Linked DNA regions of Homo sapiens. The protein of the gene in region 1 purifies or fractionates together with the protein of each later gene. This does not show direct contact. Each region holds a gene or a part of one and is shown in the gene's direction. Other genes may lie near its edges. The genes, in order: ZNF776 and OPA1.

What was found.
Region 2: the proteins of ZNF776 (region 1) and OPA1 purify together in Homo sapiens (affinity purification with mass spectrometry; one large-scale study listed by BioGRID and IntAct). This does not show direct contact.

The regions. Positions count from the first base shown.
Region 1 is NC_000019.10:57,749,569-57,753,388, forward strand, and holds part of ZNF776 (zinc finger protein 776), read left to right. Parts: intron 1-1,216; coding exon 1,217-1,343; intron 1,344-3,722; coding exon 3,723-3,820. UniProt on the Homo sapiens protein: May be involved in transcriptional regulation.
Region 2 is NC_000003.12:193,638,208-193,642,027, forward strand, and holds part of OPA1 (dynamin-like GTPase OPA1, mitochondrial), read left to right. Parts: intron 1-3,820. UniProt on the Homo sapiens protein: Dynamin-related GTPase that is essential for normal mitochondrial morphology by mediating fusion of the mitochondrial inner membranes, regulating cristae morphology and maintaining respiratory chain function.

The DNA.
Region 1 (3,820 bases):
TGTCACCTTGACATCTAGTGATATTGGTATGACCTCAAATGACCTGAGAACCAATTCCCTTCCCACTAGGCTCTTTTAGATAATAATCAGCATGGCCTAATAATCCTTTTATTAGGGAGACCAGGCAGAATTCCTGGTTATTATACTTTGTAGTGAGTTTCAATTTTATCCTTACCCACAGTGTTATTCAAACAAGCCAGTTGCATCCTCCTAAGGGATTCGGGGGTCATCACACCCTCTTCATTTTAAAAGCTTGCATATCATAGTTTCTGGTTATGCACTCTTATCCATAGTGCAACCCCTATGTGGTCCTTCATGATGAGGGATGTCCTCTTCTAGACTTTGAGTGTATTTGATTTTTAAACATATTTATAGCACCTGTCTAGTGTTTGATGTCATGTGTTTGGTCATTAATATAACTGTAAGGTGAAAATCTCACCCTTACTGGTAGAAGGAAGAAGAGGGTATAAACATACTTTAACTTGTGGGGAGGCAGAGGCCAATGTGGGAGGCAGTTTAGTGGGGGTGGCCATGGGCATGTGTCTGTGCAGTCTAAAGAATGATGTGTATTTTGGCCTAGCACAGTGGCTCATGCCTGTAATCCCAGCACATTGGGAGGCTGAGGTGGGTGAATCACTTGAGCTCAGGATTTCGAGACTAACCTGGGCAACATAGTGAAACCTTCTCTCTACCAAAAATACAAAAAAAAAAAAAAATTAGCCGGCACGGTGGCATGCACCTGTATCCCATCTACTCGGGAGGCTAAGGCCAGAGAATTACTCGAGCCCAGTAGACAGAGGTTGCAGAGAGCTGAGATTATGTCATTGCACTCCAGCCTGGGCAACAGGAGTGAAACCCTATCTCAAAAAAAAAAAAAGCAAAAAAAAGGAATGATGTGTATTTAGAGAAGGAGTATGTCTGATAGACTGAGGATGCTGCATTGGGATTTACATGACTTCATCTCTACCAGGGGCATTGGCTATCAGGAAGTTATGGACCGCTTTATATCAGCACCAAAACATAGAAATCTATTGTTTCACCCACTTCTTGTGGCTGATGGCTGTACACCATGACCAGTGAGCCCATGAGAAGATAGTGACACCAGTGGGCCTAGTTTCTCCTTGTAGTTTAGGACCTTGGGAGGAGGAAGGGCAAGGGTGGATAAGTGGATGAGCATATGGAGTGTTTGTGGTTTCATCTGTCATCATCACGGCAGGGCACTGTGACCTTTGAAGATGTGGCTGTGAACTTTTCCCAGGAGGAATGGAGTCTCCTTAGTGAGGCTCAGAGATGCCTTTATCATGACGTGATGCTGGAGAACCTGACACTTATATCTTCTCTAGGTAAGGCACTCACACTCTTCTCTATGACCTCAGCTATTGTCTGTCTGTCCCCATCTTTTTTCCCCATGGCAAGACTGTTTTCCTCACTTCAGGAGCCTGGGCACAGGTTCCTCTGTTAGTTCCCTGGGTAGGTTCTATGTGGTATGTAGGACTGAGGTGTGTGCACTGCCCTCTCTCTCCTTGAGCAGCCCCAACACCTGCTTTGCTGCAAGCTCCCAGAGAAGGAGCTTTACAGGCACCATAATGCATCCCACCTTGCTTGCCCTCTGGCTGTTGAGTAATTTTTCTAGATCAGAGACTGGTATGCACAGGTTCTACTTCCTTGCTCTAGGTGACATTTATTCATGACTGCCTGTGCTAGGAATTCCTCCCATCACTGATGTTCTCAATACTTACATGCACCATAGGTTGTTCTTGCAAGACCCTCCTTATAAATTATCTTGTTTGTTTTGTTTTGTTCTGTTTTGTTTTCAAAGTCTTAACTCTGTCACCCAGGCTGGAGTGCAGTGCTGCAGTCATAGCTCACTGTAGCCTCAATCTCCCAGGCTCAAGCAATCCTCCTTCCTCAGCCTCTAGAGTAACTCGGACTAGAGGCTTCTGCCATCACATCCCACTAATTTTTATTTTTATTTTTAATAGAGATGAGGTCTGGCTGTATTGCCCAGGCTGGTCTCTGACTCCCAACCTCACGTGATCCTCCCACCTCATCCTCCCAAAGTGCTGGGATTACAAGCATGAGCCAGTGTGCCCTGAGTATTTTTTGCTTTTTTGTTTTTTTTTTTTTCAGACAGGGTTTCACTGTCATCCAGGCTGCAGTCTACTGATGCAATCATGGTTCACTTCATTCTCAGCCTTCTGGGCTCAAGTAATCCTCCCACCTGACTCCTAAGTAGCTGGGACTACAGGAGCATGCCACCCTGCCCAACTAATTTTTGTTCATTTGTATTTTTGGTTTTGTTTTTTTTTTTTTTTTTTTTTTGAGACGGAGTCTTGCTCTGCCACCAGGCTGGAGTGCAGTGGCCCAATCTCGGCTCACTGCAACCTCCGCTTCCCAGGTTCACACCATTCTCCTGCCTCAGCCTCCCGAGTAGCTGGGACCACAGGCACATGCTGCCACACCTGGCTAATTTTTTTGTATTTTTAGTAGAGACGGGGTTTCACCGTGTTAGCCAGGATGGTCTCGATCTCCTGACCTTGTGATCCACCCGCCTCGGGCTCCCGGAGCTGGGATTACAGGCGTGAGCCACCGTGCCCGGCCTCATTTGTTTGTTTTGTAGAGATGGTGTCTCATTATGTTACCCAGGTTGGTCTTGAACTCCTAGGGTCAAGTAGTCCTTCCAGTTTGGCCTCCCACAGTGCTGGGATTATAGGTGTGAGCCACTGCACCTGGCCAAAAATTATCTTTGTAGTATTTAGTTTTCTTTCCTATGGGCTATCATGTGCTGATTTTTTCTGAACTGTTGGTTGGCTATTCTTCTCTCTTGTCTTTCTCTTATTCTTTATGTCATCCATGTCTCATGTAAATTCCATGTATATCTTTGCAGTGGGACTGAGAGTTCTCAGTGATCCAGAAGTTGCAGCTAAACCCAGGCTCAGCATGATGGGCCCAGAGGGAGGCCACCTCTGAGGAGTAACACCCTGGAGGAAGACATAACATTAGGGATTTAGGAAAGTCATGCTAGAAGCTCTCTGATTTCACAAGTATTTACCTGGCAACATGACGAGCCATATGCTGTTTCTGTCTTCCCCATTCTTGAGAGTTTCAGACTTCACCGTTCTATACCCTGTCACTTCTCCTCTGATGCCAGCCCAGGACTAATCTTCACATCTCTGGATCCCACCTGGACCCATTTTTCTCACATTTCCATCTGCAGTGGACTCCAATACTGGCATATCAATTTTGTATTAGGAAGTGTGTACACATTGCTAAGCCATACCTGACCAACAGCTGCTTTGTTGTACTCGTATTTTCTTGTGACACACAAACAAGTGTATCTTTGTTGTACTCGTATTTTCCTGTGACACACAAACAAGTGTATCTAACAGAGGTATTACTCCATGGAAATAATTGCAGAAACAGAATGTTGCCTTTAGGTTGAAGATAAGTCTTCTTCATATTACTGGGTTAGAATGATTACAGAATGTAGGGGGCCACATGATGTGAAGGAGCCAACAATACATGCACTACAGGAAGCAGAGGCAATTCCTTCCTGTGCAAACATCTAAAGGACCTTCATAAAGCATGTGGGTGCTATATAAAAGGATATGTCTAGGCCCAAGTAAATATAAGTACAACAAAGCAGCTGTTGATCAGGTATGGCTTAGTAATACTTCCCTTCGGAAGTACCTTGCATTTTACCAGCATTTTATTTCTTTTAGGTTGTTGGTATGGAGCAAAAGACGAGACACCTTCTAAGCAGACCCTTTCTATACAACAGGAGTCCCCACTCAGGACACATTGGACAGGTGTATGTACC
Region 2 (3,820 bases), on another chromosome or scaffold:
GTAGAAGGCACAGCCAGGAGGCCAGTGTGGCAGGAGCTGAGTGAGGGGAGAGTGGTAGGAGAGGATGACAGAGACCCAGTTGGGAGGCCTTTGGATTTTATTCTGAATAAGATAAGAGAGAAGTTAAGAGAATGAGAATATTGGAAGTGGAGTCAATGAATATAGATAATTTTCTAGTTTTATTGTGACAAAAGAGCAGAGAAATGAAGCAGTAGCAATTGAATATTGTTGAATTAAGGGAAGGTTTTTAACCCTTTTCCTGTTTAGAAAAAAAGTGCAGCTCAACACCAGTGCTCATTTAATTTTACGTAAACACACTCTCTGAAGCTGAAGCAAATCTGACTAATTTTCAATGTGAAAATAAAATATAAAAACTGTTCTTAGAGTTATTTCTAAACAGTACTAACATCAGAATCGTCCCAATCATCAGAATGTCTGTTTTTTAAAAGTCAGATTTATCAAATCAATCTTCGGCCAACAACTTTTTGAGAATGATGTAAACATCACACATAGGAATTCCGCATTTTCTAGGATTTGACATTTTCAGCTATTGAAAATTACTATATTTTGTAAATGGACGTACCGCTACTAAAAACAGAATGCTTGAAATAGAATGTCTTTTGTTTCCAAAGTCAGTACACTAGAGCTATGTGAAAATAATCATAAAAGTGAAGATATTTTATGGCAGAGTTATGTTGGGGCAAATGCTGCAGCTGCAAGCGGTGCTGGCAAATATTGTCGGAGCAAGTGGGAAAAGGATTAAAGATGTTTATATGCTGATTATAATGATCTAATAAAGGGGGGAAATGATGCAAGAGAGAGGGAAAATTGCAAGAGCAAAGTTACTGAGGTGAAGGAGATTGTGACTTGGTGTACTAGTCCATATCTGGGAGCACTGACAATTTCTCCAGGGTCACAGGAAGAAGGTATGGGGCTGCAGAGTCTTTCATTGAACAGATATTTACGGAATGCTTAATATGTACCAGTAGCATTCTAGGCAATATGTTGGTAAACAGCAACAACAAAGAAGAACCTTGCCTTAATGGAGGGTATGTTCTAGTAGAGGGAGACAGATAATAGATAATAAATATAATACATAATTGTATAGTAGGTTAGAAGGCAATAGTGTTGTACAACAAGAAAAAGCAGAACCAGGCAAGGAGAATGAGGGTGCCAGAGTATTCATAGATTGCATTGATAAGGTGGCATTTGAACCAAGATTTGCAGAAAGTGAGGGAGTAGTCCTGAGGATATCCTGTGTTCAGCAAGGAGAATAGCTGATGCAAAGCCTCTGAGGTGGTTGTGTGGCTGTCATGTTCAAGGAACAACAAAGAGGCCTGTGTGGTCAGGTCGGGGTGAAGAGCTAGCCATGGTCGGGGCAAATGATGACATTAGAGGAATAATGAAGAGCGGGGAGGAACAGATCAATAAGGCCTTATAGGCCATTGTACAGACTTCCGTTTTAAGTAAAATGGAAAGCCAGTGCAGGATTTCGAGCAAAGTAACAAAAGTGCCTTTTAAAAGGCTGCTCTTTTGAAAATAGTTGTAGCCAAGATGTAGAACCAGGGAGTCTAGGCTACTGGAGTATCCAGGTGATACTTGGGCTAGGGAAGTAGCAGTGAAACTGGTAAGAAATGGATAGATTATAAATGTGTTTTGAAAGTAGAATTAACAGGATTTCTTGACAGGTTTGATATGGAGAGGGGAGAGAAGAAAAGCAATGGGGAGAGAGAGAGAGAGTGTCAATCATCAATGATGCCTCCAGGGTCTTTAGCCTGAACAAATTGAAGGATGTAGTTTGCATGGAAGTCTGTCAGTGGATCAGGTTTGGGGGAAGAAGATCAGGAGTTCAGTTTTGGACTTGCTGAGTGGTGATAACAAGCAGTTGGGTATACAAGTTTAGACAGAGGTGTGGGCCAGAGACATACATTTAGGAGTCATGATCAACTATCTAAAAGTAGTATTTAAAGTCATGATCTTACTGGAGAAGATCTTCAAGGGAGTGAGTAGAGATAGAGAAAACACAGAAGCAAGCAGTATATTCTGGGCACTCTGAACATTAAGATGTTGAGGGAAGAGAAAATAACAAAGGAATGTGTGAAGGCCCAACCAGTATAGTAAGAGGGAAAGCAGAGCAGGACAGTGTGCGCAAAGTCAGGTAAACAAAAAGAAAACATGGAGGAGGAGGGAGTGCTCAGTGAGGTCACATGCTGCTGATCCATCAAGGAAGGTGAACATAGAAACCAGTCGTTGAGTTCACCAGTGGAGGCAAGAAAGGGGAACGTGTGGAAGTTTCCTTCTGATTGCTTCCGCTTACTCAGTGAAATACTAAGCCAGATGATCAGCTGTTAATTAGAAAGGAGAAGAGATTAAAGACTGAGGCAGGAAGAAAAAGTGAAGTCTGTTAACAGATCGTGGTGACTCTAGGAGTGAATCAGTGGAGAAAGTCAAGTGATATTAGGATTACTGAGGTGGACTGAAGTCCCTTTAAGTTCTGTGGACATAAATTTTAAATGAATCATTATGATTGTGTTTTGTTTTTTTCATGTTTAGCTGGTGGGGGGTAGGTGTAGAATAATTGGAAGATTGAAATTACCAAGAATTATGGCAAGAATAGTGGGAGAAAGACAGTGAGGCTGATGCTGAAATCTTCAAGAAATGAAATCTGTTTACAAGTGCAACAGGGTATGGGCAGCCTAGTGTGATTCATCTAGATTGCACTTTTGTGGGTCTAGCTATGGATTGAATCGTGTTATGTGTTACTAGTTCTGTGTGTGGTACTGTGTGACTGTACCAGACTTTACATATCCATTTTACTACCGATGGGAATTTGGGGTACATCTAACCTAGAGAAAAAAACAAAATGAACCTCAGACTACACCTCATATCCTGTTCAATAATCAGTTGTAAAAACATGGGAGAGAAACCTACCTTTTACATTGTTACTAGCATCCTAATTGTAGAAGCTGTGGATGATACTTCAAGAAGAAATTAATTTTGTTTTGGCAGGCAGGGTGTGGACAGGTTTCCTTGAAACAGATGAGGCTGGTCTCTTTCCGGTTTGTCATTAGTCCCTTAGTGTTTACTAGAGCTTCTCCTTGACCAACCCTGAATTCCAGTTTTTTGTTTCCCTAGAGCAGTGAAAGTGCCAAAACCCCAGCTTAGCATTTTAACCTCCTTAGCAGCTTCTTTCTGCTTGGTTTCCTAAAATGTGAATGCCGTGAAAGGAAATTGTGCGCAGGATGTAGGGTTTTGTTTTGTTTTGGAGGTTTATTTCTGCAGTTCATTTTTCTTTGGGATTGTGGCACCTTAAGACGTGACTACTTAATAACTCGGAATTCCAATCTTGTCTACTCAACCCAGTGAAACTGCTACACATTTTAAGTTTTTCTCTTGGGCCTTTGCCCTGTGCTACAAATCAGCAAATCCTCTGATGGAAAATAGCTAAACAGCTTTCCAACAGCTGTTTATTGTTTTTAAATTTAGCCTGTTTAGCTAATCTCAGTAGAAGGAATTGTATTTTTAAAGTAAAATAACTATAGAGAAGCTAGAAAGGTGTCAATTAGGCATTTAGAAGTTCTTGTGAAACCACTGACTGTTAATATACATTGCTATAACATTTCTTGGCTGGGTGCAGTGGCTCATGCCTGTAATCCCAGCACTTTGGGAGGCTGAGGAGGGCGGATCACCTGAGGTCAAGAGTTCAAGACCAGCCTGGCCAACATGGCGAAACCCTGTCTCTACTAAAAGTACAAAAAACTTGCCAGGTGTGGTGGCGGGCATCTGTAATCCCAGCTACTCGGGAGGCTGAGGCAGGAGA